Homo sapiens: one gene and its partners. The gene in region 2 interacts genetically with the main gene of each other region. Each region holds a gene or a part of one and is shown on either strand. Other genes may lie near its edges.

The links. A genetic interaction does not mean that the proteins touch.
Region 1: of CTNNB1 (region 2) and GRIP1, changing one enhances a phenotype caused by changing the other (phenotypic enhancement), as found in Homo sapiens cells (one study listed by BioGRID).
Region 3: of CTNNB1 (region 2) and KCTD1, changing one suppresses a phenotype caused by changing the other (phenotypic suppression), as found in Homo sapiens cells (one study listed by BioGRID).

Annotation. Positions count from the first base shown.
Region 1 is NC_000012.12:66,458,192-66,462,576, reverse strand, and holds part of GRIP1 (glutamate receptor-interacting protein 1), read left to right. Parts: intron 1-4,385. UniProt on the Homo sapiens protein: May play a role as a localized scaffold for the assembly of a multiprotein signaling complex and as mediator of the trafficking of its binding partners at specific subcellular location in neurons.
Region 2 is NC_000003.12:41,228,822-41,234,092, forward strand, and holds part of CTNNB1 (catenin beta-1), read left to right. Parts: intron 1-4,519; coding exon 4,520-4,623; intron 4,624-4,707; coding exon 4,708-5,046; intron 5,047-5,271. UniProt on the Homo sapiens protein: Key downstream component of the canonical Wnt signaling pathway.
Region 3 is NC_000018.10:26,537,669-26,542,053, reverse strand, and holds part of KCTD1 (BTB/POZ domain-containing protein KCTD1), read left to right. Parts: intron 1-4,385. UniProt on the Homo sapiens protein: May repress the transcriptional activity of AP-2 family members, including TFAP2A, TFAP2B and TFAP2C to various extent.

The sequences.
Region 1 (4,385 bases), on a different chromosome or scaffold from region 2:
TTGTTTACTCTAATTCATCTTCCAAAGTCTTTTTTCTAAGCCACACATAATTTGCTTGAAACCCTAACATCGAGGAAAAAATTTTCAGGCTAGTGCTATTTGATATTTTTTTCTTAAAAAAGTCTTTGGTGCAAATTGAATGTGCAGACAAGGAAAATAATTTGACTTCCTGGTATACATTTTGAATTTCCAGCCTAGATGAAGGCCAATGAAGGCAAATAGTAAAGCTCTCACTTAAAAATAAATAAGTAAAGTGGATTTTAATAGCAGAACCTTCAAATATTTGGCAGGAATCAGAGGGAACCAGTTATATGAAGCCTTGGTTTACAATATATTATGTCTTTTGCCAGTGGAGTTTTTTTCTTAGGATAGAGAACAACCTGTCTGAGCAAACATCTTGTCTGGGAGAATCAGAATATTTAACTCCATTTATTCAATAGAAAGTGTCAGCTGAAGGTATCTGTATTTTGACTCCCTTGAAATTCACAGATACATTTGCTGGGTGTTTATACCATCTACCTAGGCACCTTTAGGCAAAACCTGGTATGAGAAAGGGGTCTTTGAGCCCCAAATCAAATGAAGTCAAGTTTTCCAGTAGGATATTTGTTCCGACTCCCTCTCCTGCCCTATTCCTTAAAGCAAACACCATTCCTTTGTACTCCTTGAAATTAGAGGCCTCACTAGTATTGTCAGGGTGGCCTGAAGGAGGATAATGCATTTCTGTATATTTAGACACAGTGCAGTTTTCTCTGAAATTGAAATTTTGCTTATGAGGGGGTCATTTGTATTGTGTCTCCCACCTTTTAAAATGCACTACACTTCTCCACAGTCTGGGGCGGGGGGAAAGAGGGACCAGATAATTTTCATACTAAATCAGTCAGCTGGATGCAACCTTTTTAATTAAATGGAGCTTAGACAGCCCTGAAGCTAATGAAAATCTCTAGTACAACATTACCCTTATCAGATTTTAATTTTACACATTGGAGTAGAGAAATGATGCAGCATAGGCAGGTTATGAAAAGAAAATCAGCATCACAGTATTGGAATAGCAATGCAAACAGCTGTAGGAAGGTGCCGTTCACAAGGATGCACACCATTCCTATCAGGAGGCCCCGTGGGCCCTTCCTGCACTCTGGCAGAGAGGAGAGATTTCTGAAGCTGTTTAAGTTTCTTTAAATTAATCGGCAGTCATCATTGGATTTGGAGCACAGTAGCCATAAGAATGTACACTGTGTAGTGCTCTCTCAGCATGGGGTTTTGCTTGCTAAATTCTGGTATCAGCGAATCGGAAATGCATACCAGACCCTTTTAAAATGTTAGCATCTTTAGTAATCTCTTTTATTTTTCTTTAATTGGCCCTATATACAATTCATAAATAATTCAAGTGTTTTCAACTCATGGAATATTAAATTTTTTAACCTGCCAAGGCAATTTGAGTTTAATTTATACACTAAAATATATGGACTAAGCACAAATTTTTTGCCTTTATTGTGGAAAACCTGATGTCGTTTGTGTTGCAGGGATAGGAAACTGATAGGAAGTTTAAGTAATTCTAGCTTCCACTTCTGACTCCATCGTCTACGTTTACTGAAAGTTGTTCACTGTCTTTCTTATCAAGCAGGTGTTTCCGTTATATTGCACATTAAAATCAGACTTGGATTTCCAAGAGGAAATAAATTTTGGCTCCTAAACATAATTAAATCATAGTAAAGAAGAAAAACAAACAAAAAATTATTATTGTGTTTACAATTCTCAAATTTTTGACTAGTGGAGTTTTACATAGTTTTACCCTTTCTCCACAAGAAAGTTCTGATTGTTTTTTCAAGATCTCTGATGCCTGAACAGTGTGTCTCTCAACACACTTCCCAAATTTCCAGATTGTGTTAGCAGTAAAGCATATACCACAGAGTTTTCAGGCCAGTGTGGAAATGAATATCTCAACTTGGGATAAGAGATTAGCTATGCCTTTCACTGATAAATAGCAGCATTAAAGAAGCTGACAGAAATGAGTTTTCAGTGAGGTTAGAAATTTTTCCCACTGAGGGTTTTCAGGAGACATAATTGGATTGAAGGAAACTGACGTTTTGGAAAGGAAAATGTGACCAGAGTCACTAGACTCGACACATTCAGTACCAGGAGGACCTTCCATTTGAGAGCTCCAGGGCAACCTGGAACCACTGTGGTCTGCTCTCTCGAACATCCTGAACAGAGTAAGAGGCTGCAATTAGAGAAAGAAGAAAGAAAAGTAACTTCTGTGGCCATATATCTCTTGAGACTGCAGTAGTGACGTCACCATGGAATGATACAAGAACCATAATATTTTAAATGTGTTGTTTTCTTATCCATAACAAGGGACTTAGACATACCCATAGGAAGAGGCGGTATGTCTGGTGGTTGAAGCGGGGACTTTAGGATCACGTGTCCAGAGCTTCACCTCTGACTCCACCACGTGGGGTCTTAAGCAAGTTACCCAACTTTTCTATACCTCAGTTGCTTCATCTGTAAAATGGGGGTCATAATAATACTTGCCTCAAAGGAATATTGTGAACATTGTCTGAGCTAATCCATGAAAAAGCACCTAGCACAGTGCCTAGTATATAATAAGTAATCAGTGAAAGTAGGCTACAATTATTGGCTTTATTAAATGAGAGAATGTCTATAAGTGCTCTTTGCAAAATGACAGGACATGCCAAAAATGTAACATCTTATTATTAAACTTTGGAAATACTTGCCTATCAAGTACACCACTGTAAAACAGAAAACATTTGGAGTGTACATTCAAAATAGGCAGCAGCTCTCTTCTCTGGCCTACATTATTTGTTCAACACCTTTTGCATTCATCATCCATGGCATACAGTTTTGTGCATTATCTTATATCATTTTTGTCTCTTAATTATTTTATATGTATGAAGATTTAATCCCCAGTAGTAATTCAAAGTCAAGGTAAATGGTATGACCTTTAACCTGCCTGTAGCAATTGGCACAGTCTGAGAAAGCAATAGCTGGTAAATAATATCTTCCTTATTGACTTATTAATTGTGCTGTACAGTCCTAACAAATGCCCAGTAATTTTCAAAGCTCTCAATGAAGAAGCGGGTCAAAAGGTGGGTGTAGAATCCCGAAGTGCATTCACCGTACCCTGGCTTCATTTGAAACACAGATGGTACTTTGTGAAAAGTACGCTAAAGTGTCGGTGGTTGTAAATTGGCCAAACACAGTAATAACTGCGTCTTGCTGAAATGTCTTCTTGTACACCCAAAGTAGAATGAGGATGGTGAGAGAGAATCCATTAGGGACATCTCCTGCAATAAATACTCTTTTGTCTCAAGGAAAATGCTGCTGCAGTGTTCACATGGACACTCTGGCTGATATTCCCGTTCATTCATGCATTTGTTTATTCATTCATTCATGTATTAGTCATTATATACCAGGCACTGTTCTAGTTGCTAGGATATATTTAGTGAGCAAGACAGGCAAAGTATATCCCTACTCTTATAGAATTCACATTCTAGTACAGACAGACAAACATTAAAAATATATTAAATAAATAAAGCTGTTTCAGACAGCAATAAGTACCATGAAGAATGTAAAACAGTAATGAGATAGCATGGGGAGGGCAGCTCCTTCAGCCAGGGAGATCAGCAACAACTTCTCTGAGGAGGTGGCACCTCGGGTGAGACCTGAATGATGAGAAGGAGGCAGTCATACAAACAACTGGGGAAAGAACAGCAAGTGCAAAGGCCTTGAGGCAGGAAGGAACCTGACTTGTTCTAAGAGTAGACATAAGATCAGTGTGGCTAAAATATACAAATGATGGGTAGAGTGATATGGATGAAACTAGAGAGATAGGCAGGGGCTGCCTTTGATTCTCTTTGTAATAGTTAGCTATTCAGGCCCGGCGCAGTGGCTCATGCCTGTAATCCCAGCACTTTGGGAGGCCGAGGCAGGCGGATCACCTGAGGTCGGGAGTTTGAGACCAGCCTGGCTAACATGGCAAAACCCCATCTCTACCAAAAATACAAAAATTAGCTGGGCGTGGTGGTGGGCACCTATAATCCCAGCTACTGGGTAGGGTGAGGTGAGAGAATCACTTGAACCTGAGAGGCAGAGTTTGCAGTGAGCTGAGATTGCACCATTGCACTCCATCCTGAGTGACAAGAGTGAAACTCTGTCTCAAAAGAAAAAAAAAGTAACCTATTCAAACAGGAGTGGCATGATCTAACTTATATATTTAGAAGGCCACCCTAGCTATGTTGTGGAAGGTAGGTATGCAGGAGATGAGTTGGGAAGCCATGTCTGAAGGTGTTACAGTGGCCTAGATGAAGGAGGTGGCAGCTTGAAGTAGGAAAGTGGAGAGAGAGGGGGAATCCAAACCACAAACAGGG
Region 2 (5,271 bases):
TTCCTAGGTTATCTTGCAGAGTTTTTACAGTTTTAAGTTTTATATTTAAGTCTTTAATCCATTCTGAGTTGATTTTTGTACATCATGTAAGGATGGGGTGCAGTTTCAATCTTGGATGTGGCTAGCCAGTTATCCCAGCACCATTTATTGAATAGGGAGTCCTTTCCCCATTGCTTGTTTTTGTTTACTTGTTAGGTGTGCGGCCTAACTTCTGGGCTTTCTTTTCTGTTCCATTGGTCTCTGTGTCTGTTTGTATACCAGTACCATGCTGTGATTGTAACCTTGTATTAACAGTATAGCTTGAAGTTGGGTAAAGTGATTCCTCCAGTTTTGTTCTTTTTGCTTAGGATTGCCTTGGCTATTCAGGCTCTTTTTTGGGTTCATATGAATTTTTAAATAGTTTTTTTTTAATTATGTGAAGAATGCCATTGGTAGTTTGGTAGGAATAGCATTGAATCTGTGAATTGCTTTGGGCTGTATGGCCATTTTAACAATATTGATTCTTCCTGCCATGAAATAGAATGTTTTTTCATTTGTTGGTGTCATCTCTGATTTCTTTGAGCAGTGTTTTTTGTAATTCTCATTGTAGAGATCTTTCACCTCCCTGGTTAGTTGTATTCCTAGGTATTTTATTCTTTTTGTGGCTTTGGTAAATGGGATTGCATTCTTGATTTGGCTTGCAGCTTGGATGTTGTTGGTGTCTAGAAATGCTTCTGACTTTTGTACATTGATTTTTATATCCTGAAACTTTGCTGAAGTTTATTGGATCAAGGAGCTTTTGGGCAGAGATTATGGGGTTTTCTAGGTATAGAATCATATTGTTTGCAAACAGACTTCCTATTTGGATGCATTTTCTTTCTCTTGCCTGATTATGAGCAGTGTTTTGCCCTGATATTCTGTATTCTCAGTGAATAGATGTCGTCTAAGTATGAGAAACAATTTTTTTCTATTCTGAGTATTTTTAAGAAGGCAACTTATATGTGGTACTTTGTATATTGTGTATGTTGGCAATTGGGGAAAAGAATAGATGGTTTGTACTAGGGCCTCTTGGGTTCTGTGTGTGTGTGTGTGTGTGTGTGTGTGTGTCATGAAAACAGTTACTTTTTAGCTACCAAGCATTTTTTCTCCTTTCAGTAACCCACCTAACAACATTTACTCAGAATTTCAAAGCAAGCTTCAAATCAGTATTGAAAGAAGGAAAAATATAAAGGCATTTAATGGAAGAAAATGTTGGGAATAAAGTATAGGGCTGGCAACACTTACTTTTCTCACTTATTGAGAGTAATTTTACTTGGGAATTTATGAGAGAGAAAGACATTATGATTGCTCCAGGTAACTACTGGCAGAGGAACCATAGTCTTGGGGATAGACAAATGTGGCTGAGTTCATATAGAATGAGGGGATGGGATGTAAATTCTGTCAGCTGTTCCAGCAGTAACCTGTAATGTAGGCTAAAAATACAGATTTTGAGATTTATTTAATCAGAATCCCTGGAGTGTTAATTTTTATATCAAGATCTCATAGTGTTTTATTTGAAGTGACAGGGAGGTCTGTAGATAGCTGGACATGTATGGGACTGGAAGCTTAGGAATCTTTAAGTTCTTCCAGGTTATTCTTATGTTCATTTGTTTATTCTGAAAATAGCATCTAATGTATTTTAAGAAATGGAATAGGCACATAGTATACATTGGGTAACACAACAGATAGGGTCCCCGTGCTTAATTCTTAGTCTTGTGAAGGTGACAAAAATACTTAAAAATATGTGATCCTAAATTAGAATGAGTGTTATGGGAGAAATGACAGCAAATAGTGATGAGAATTAATGGGGAGGGGAATTGTCTAGATGAGAGGGAAAAGGTCTCCTTGAAAAGGGGATGTTAAGTGGGACTGCAGGATGAGAGGGAACCGTCTCTTGTCTATATGAGAAGTGAGGGTTAAACGTTTTCCAGGTAGAGAAAAGGAACACCATGTGCTATGTCTTAGAACCAGGGATATCCAGTCTTTTGGCTTCCCTGGGCCACATTGGAAGAAGAATAATTGTCTTGGGCTACACACCAAATACACTAATGATAGCTGATGAGCTAAAACAAAAAAAAATTGCAAAAGAATCTCATAATGTTTAAGAAAGTTTACGAATTTGTGTTGGGCTACATTCAGAGCTGTCCTAGGCCATGTGGCCCATGGGCTGCAGGTTGGACAAGCTTGCCTTAGAAGGAAAGAGATTGGTCAGGCACGGTGGCTCACGCCTGTAATTCCAGCACTTTGGGAGGCTGAGGTGGGCGGATCATGAGGTCAGGAGATCGAGACCAGCCTGGCTAACACAGTGAAACCCCATCTCTACTAAAAATACAAAAAGTTAGCCGGGCGTGGTGGCAGGCGCCTGTAGTCCCAGCTACTTGGGAGGCTGAGGCAGGAGAATGGTGTGAACCCGGGAGGCGGAGCTTGCAGTGAGCTGAGATAGCGCCACTGCACTTCAGCCTGGGCGACAGAGTGAGACTCTATCTCAAAAAAAAAAAAAAGGGAAAGAGATTGTGGAGATCCAGGTGCTGAAGAGAAGGTCTGCATAAACAGAACTTAGTAATGAGGTGGATGGCCTGGTATGAGGTTGAGGTTAGGTAAGCAGAGCCATAACATGCAGGACTTTCTAGGTTCCTATAAGATAGTTACTACTCATGGAGTTTATTCATGCTTTATTCCAGCTTTGGAGCCATAGATACAGAATACTTTGGTCAGTTTGGAAGGCTAGGTGGGATCCAAATTCTAAACGGTTCCTCAGGGTTATACTAAAGTATTTCTATTATCTTAAAAGGATGCTGAGACACTTTCGATGGTTGTTTATCAATAGCAAAGCATCACAGTGGTGTGTTTAAAATATTAATAATAGCATTGTATAGATTAACAGTTTGAATGACCAAAAGCTAGAAGACCAGACTACTGAGATGTTACAGGCTTTTAGGAATGAAATAGTTTGCTTTTAGAACTCAATAGCAAAGGGCAGATGTCTGAGATGCCTGAAAGAATCATAGAATGTAATAATATAGGAGCTAAGGGAGCAACCAAAAACGGTTTGTGGAGGGGACAACATTGGTACCATGAAGATAAATGGAACCCTCAGAAGGCATCCTTAATTTTTGAACATAATAATTTAAGAAGCTGACTTAAAGTGACTTAAAAGGTCAGTAGGTAGCTGGAAATGTATGATACTAGAATGCAAGAGAGGCAGGCTAGAGATTTGGAAGTTTCCCTCTTAGTATATAGGGGTAAGGGCAGCAGGGAAGGGGAGGTAGAGGTGCCACAGAGTCATCTGTATGGGACTTTTTTTTTTACCCTAGAACTGCTGAATCAGAATGTGTGTGTTTTAAAGTCTCTGTAGGCCATTCTGATGGACATCTGGGGTTAAAATCCATTCTCTTAGAGTTAATAGTTATGTAAAGGGAGGGAATGAAGTCTTAAAGAGGGGAAAGAAGGTAGTCATTTCACAAATACTGAGCATCCTGATCATCAGTCTTACGCAGATCATTCTATTAGTAGCTGGAGCTACTATGAAAAAGGAACCCAACAGAGGTGATCTTTGTCTTGTAGGGAAAGTGGAGTAACTTACACTATGAAGGAGAAGTGCAGGGTACCATAAGAATTACAGCAGATAGACCTCATCTGAGGAAATAAAACAGACCCGAAAGATGAAGGAGACAAGGAAAAGTATCTCTTACTGCATTCAGAAGTGATTTAAGTTGAAGATGGATGAGCGAAGTTAATCTACTATGTGGGCATTGGGCTTCCATTTATACTCCTTTGCCAGAGTAAATGTCCCCCATTTAAGGGTCCTAAAGGATGGAAGATTGTAAACCTTGGAACACATGTTTTGTAGTCAGTGAATTGTATAAAGTCCCTGACAGTAAGTGTTTTCATGCCGTCTTTCTGGATTGTTCTTACCCCAGGAATTTACCTAGCTTCTTTAGGTCTTTAGTCAGATGTCACCTTCACAGTGAGGTGACCTAATTATCTATTTAAAATCGCAGCCCCACTCCATTATTTTTCTCCATAGCCCTTTAATATCATCTGACATACTGTATGGTTTTAGTTTATTGTATATTTTTCTGCCTCTTCCAACTAGATCATAAATTCTGAGGGTAGGAACTTCTGAATATTTTTGTTCACTGGTCTATCTGCAGCTCAGAACAGGACCTGGTACTGAATAAATATTTTTGAAATGATTGAATGGATGAAAAGAAATGAGTAATAAGAATATTACCTAAGGGGGACAGTGGAGATAACAAAGGCTTTTTCGGCTTAGGAAAGGAACAGTAGCTATTTGAGAGTTTGTCACTAGTGAGGTGAACTGGCAAAGTGAAGGAAACTGAGCAACATTCTAGAAAATGAGAGGAAATCAAATACTTAGGTGAAAGGAAGTAAACTCTGGAAATACAGAAGGACACCTCCTAAGGCTAGAACAGATATTTAGGATTGATAGGCACTTCTAGCTAATGACTAGGGCCTTATATCCTTTTTAATTTTCTAGGTGGAATGCAAGCTTTAGGACTTCACCTGACAGATCCAAGTCAACGTCTTGTTCAGAACTGTCTTTGGACTCTCAGGAATCTTTCAGATGCTGCAACTAAACAGGTAAATTCTGAGTAAACTGGTGCCATGGGAATAGAGTCAAGATGAGTATGTGCTTGTACTGACCATCTGTTTTTATCTCCATAGGAAGGGATGGAAGGTCTCCTTGGGACTCTTGTTCAGCTTCTGGGTTCAGATGATATAAATGTGGTCACCTGTGCAGCTGGAATTCTTTCTAACCTCACTTGCAATAATTATAAGAACAAGATGATGGTCTGCCAAGTGGGTGGTATAGAGGCTCTTGTGCGTACTGTCCTTCGGGCTGGTGACAGGGAAGACATCACTGAGCCTGCCATCTGTGCTCTTCGTCATCTGACCAGCCGACACCAAGAAGCAGAGATGGCCCAGAATGCAGTTCGCCTTCACTATGGACTACCAGTTGTGGTTAAGCTCTTACACCCACCATCCCACTGGCCTCTGATAAAGGTAAATTGTCAAAGTAGAATTTACCTTTGTTGCAGAATTGAAAATGAAGCATCTCTAGCTGTTGGATGGCTGTCTAAGCATAGTGATCAATAAGTAGGAATTGTATTCCTTAGTAAGTAGGAAGTATGGCTGCGATAGGGGTAAGATTCTGAAATGTTTGTGTAGTCAGAACTACTTTTAGTTGATACCAATAGATTTAGTGTGGTGGGAATTTTAGGGTAAGAA
Region 3 (4,385 bases), on a different chromosome or scaffold from region 2:
GGCTGGGCAATTAGTGGATTTATGCCCTTAAAGCTGAAATAATTCTCTGCTTGCTACATGATCATCAGAGGGGAAACAGGTGAACTCTTAAAGTTTTGGGCCCTATAAAGTTCTTTTGGATTTTCAGATTTATGAAAACTGTTCCTTTGCCTACTCTTCTCTTTCAAGAGAAGATGGGTGCTGAATGGTTTTGAGTCTTTATGACAGCATGAGCTTCTAGATGGCCCAGAAATAAATGATCTTTTCAGCTGTTCGAGATACACTACAGCAAAGGGTATGGGTTGAGATTAAACCTGAATATGAGGTTGTGTTATCTAATGCCCATGACCATAAACTGGATGACAGACCCTGCAATGCCCACACTAGCACTACAGGAAGCTGAACCTAATGAGGCATGTTCTGGGTTTTCAGTGATACTCCAAATTCCTTTCAACACTTTCTTTACAGCCAGACTTCTTACCTTTTAGCTTATAGCATATAGCAACCTGACAGAGCCTTTTCTTTCTCCCTAAAAAAGATCCACTTACATATGACAGCAAACTTTCATTCATGACAGACAGGGTTTTTTTATTTGGCAGGGGTGGATATCATAAATTTTGCCCAAGCTTTGGGTAACAGAATTTTCAAAAATAACAGAGGTGGGAGCTATCTTACAGTATCGTAAGTGAAAAGTGTCTGCGTTTTCTTTGGAGTTTTTAATCATATGTGCTTTTAGGCAACTCCTGCATGTACGTAGTGTGCTTTGGGCTAGCTTTTAACATTTTCACCCCCAATGAGAATTTCCTTTCTCTGAAGACCCTCTCCATCCTGAGGTGTGTGATTCAGCTCCTCTTTCTCCAGGCAGGGACTTTGGTTGTGTTTAATCCTGTGGGCTGCAGGGCAGCAGGAAGATGGTGCAGGCCTCTAGTGATGAGTTCATTTATGTAACCCTGGATAGCTGAGGGAATTGGAGAGACCTGGAAGGAGAGGGCTGAGGATGGACTCAAGCTTCTTAGTGACCCCCACTCCACCAGCCCATTCTGCACCTCCAACCCTGCAGCACCATCTCCACCGGAAGATAGAGCCAATGCCACTTGAAAATGCTCTTCATAATCCAGACCTTTCCTGGGAGTATCTGGACTCATTCACACCCTGAATTACAGTTGACCATTGAACAACTCAGGGCTTAGGGACACCAACCCCCTGCAGTCAAAACACTGCTTTTAACAAATTTTTAACTTCACCAAAACTTAACTAATAGCTTGCTGTTGACCAGAAGCTTTGCCAATACCATAAACAGTTGATTAACACATATTTTGTGTGCTTTATGTATCATCTGTATTCTTACAATAAAGTAAGCTAGAGAAAAGAAAATGTTATCAAGAAAATCATAAGACAGAGAAAATATATTTACTATTCATTGAGTGGAAGTGGATGATCATAAAGGTCTCCTTGTCATCTTCAGGTTGAGTAGGAGGTGGGGGAAGAGGAGGGGTTGATCTTGCTGTTTGAGGGGTGGCAGAGGCAGAGGAGATAGAGGAGGTAGAAAGGGAAGCAGGACAGGCAGGCACACTTGGTGTGACTTTCATTGAAAAACACTCGCATATAAGTGAACCCGCACAGTTCAAACCCCTGTCATTCAAGGGTCAAGTGTACTGCTTTCCCCCGACTGGCAGTGAACCCTGGAAGGTTTTGATCCATTCTGGGAGGAAGGGGGGTAAAACGTGCTGCCCGAAGAGGCTGGCAGATTTAAGACAGCATTAGGTGCTAGGCCTCTAGGCAACAAGAGGAGGAGTTCAGAAAGGAATGCTAAGGGATGACAGAGACAGATGTTGCTTCCTTTGTGAGTAATTCAGTTGCCAAATTAAAATGTCAGGACTAGTTTGGGAGCTTGTGATCATGAATTTCTAGTTTTACTTCATGTCCCTAGTCCGGTTTAACCCAGTTCAGCCTAGTATCTCCCCATTCAATCCCCATCCTTTCTGTCTTAACACAAGAAAAAGGAAGCAATTATTTATAGCACCAGTTCCCATTTGGGCCCTTTCACTGTGTGCCAGGGACCAAACTAGTTAAGTACACTATCTATATTTTTTAAATTGAATTTCATATTTGTACATTTCTCTGCCTCACCCTCCATTTAGACAAAATGTTCATAGATAATATCTTCATATATATATATGTATATGTAAACTTGATATTTGAAAAAATCCTTCATTTTTATCATAATCTGAGAAATAAGTGTTGAGGATAAGTTTCTTGTGATTGTGGATTAATTCTGATATTTCAAGTTGCTATGGTTTTTGACATGCAGTTTTAAGGAACTTAACTTAGAAACATGAATTATTTCCACATTCCTGGCTGTTATGGGTCAGTGAGTGGACTGTTAGACCAGATCCAGGCAGGAGTAAATGGGGGAGCACTGTAGGGGCATAAGGCACGAGGCTCCCATCTTGTTGTACTGCAGACTGCAGAGACAAACTTGATTCATTCATTGGAGAGTTCTGATATAAACTGTCACAATCTCTAACTGGTTCTGTAGCTATGGAGTAGAATATAATCATTAACATTAATAATAATGAAGACATACTGAAAGCTTTAAAGTGGTCCACCAACCAGCAACATCTGCATTACTTGGGAGCTTGTGGGAAATGCAAAAATCCCGCCACTCTGTGCCCCTGAATCAGCCCCTGTGCTTGAAAAGACTCCTAGGCAGTGCATGTGCTCTGAACATCTTGAGCACTGGCCGATGTGGTCTCTCATTTAATCCTCATGCAGCCCTTCCAGGAATTATGGTTATTATTTTCATTTTATAAAGGAGGAAGCAAGCTAAGGGTCATAGATGTTGATTCACTTGTTTGAGCCCTAACAACTGGTAAGTAACTATGCTGGGATTTGAACCCAGCCTGTCAGATTCCACAGTATGTTCTTTCAAACCCATGGCCTGTTGATTGCAAAATTCATATCAACTGTTCAAATAAAAGAATCCAATAAAGAGAAGATGATAGAACATGAAATCACATTATTACCTGTGATGCTTTCTGGAACAACTAAAGAAGAGAGAACTTGTTAAAAGACAGCATCACAAAGCAGTGACATAAGTATGCAGAGACACAAAAAAGAATGTTTCCGGTGTGTGGCAGGCTTCCGTTTTGCTGTGTGGGGCCCCCAGCCTTTGCTGGGTCTGGGATTTGGAGCAACCTCATTTGAGAAACTATATCACATAGTGGTTAAGAACAGACTCCAGAGCCACATCCCCTGGAGCAAATCTCAGCTCTGCCCAGATCTCTGGGTGCCTCAGTTTCCTCCTCAGTCAAACGGGAATGATGATAACAATGATCTCACAGGAGCATGGGTGTTAAATGAGATACTGCTTGAAAAGTGCTTCAAATATGAGCACTATATGAATATTTGCTATCATTTTGTTAGTGCAGAATGCTTTACATTTGAACAAATGCAGATCTTTATCATAAAGTCCTAGCCCCAGCCTTCAGTTTGGCTCTTGGAAGTAGCTTGTCCAGGTGCTGCACCGGGGGCCCCTCTGTTGTTTCTTCTTTTGGGGCATCCATAGACTCTGGCCAGTAGCACTTTTGCAGGTCTTCTGGGAGATACGAAATCTCAGTGCAGGCTCTTGCACTCTGGCCTACCTGGGCCCTCTTCCCTCTCACAATTAACCTAAAAAAGCCCATCCGTGTGGATGCTTTACCTTAAGATTTGCATGTTCTGTGGCCCACGTGGGATTTAACTCCACACCTTCTTCTAACTTAGTTCTGCAGACCCTTCCTATTTCTCTTTACAGAGGCATGGAAATTTTCTTTTCTTTTTTTTTTAAGACGGAGTTTTGCTCTTGTTTCCCAGGCTGGAGTGCAGTGGTGCGATCTCGGCTCACTGCAGCCTCCGCCTCCTGGGTTCAAGCGATTCTTCTGCCTCAGCCTCCTGAGTAGCTGGGATTACAGACATGTGCCACCATGCCCGGCTAATTTTTGTATTTTTAGTAGAGACAGCGTTTCACCATGTTGGCCAGGCTGGTCTCAAACTCCTGACCTCAGGTGATCCACCCGCCTCAGCCTCCCAAAGTGCTGGGATTACAGGCATGAGCCACCATGCCCGGCCAGAAATTTTCTAGTGCTAAAAAATTAGCACTAGGATTTGGGCAGCCCACTGATGGGCATAATTGCTGCCCAGGCTACAGCACATTCACAGATGAAATGAGACAACAATGAACAGAATGAAATCAACAGTTTTTCAAAAGAGATTAAATTTTATTTGGAATGGCTTGAGATGAAGGGAGTGGTCATTATACTAGGATTCCTAAAATATTATGAAGGTCATTATAGCTATAATCTACATAAATCTCTTAATTTCAGTATTCTAGAAGTAGGGTCTATATTTGGCTAGAGCCTGTGTTA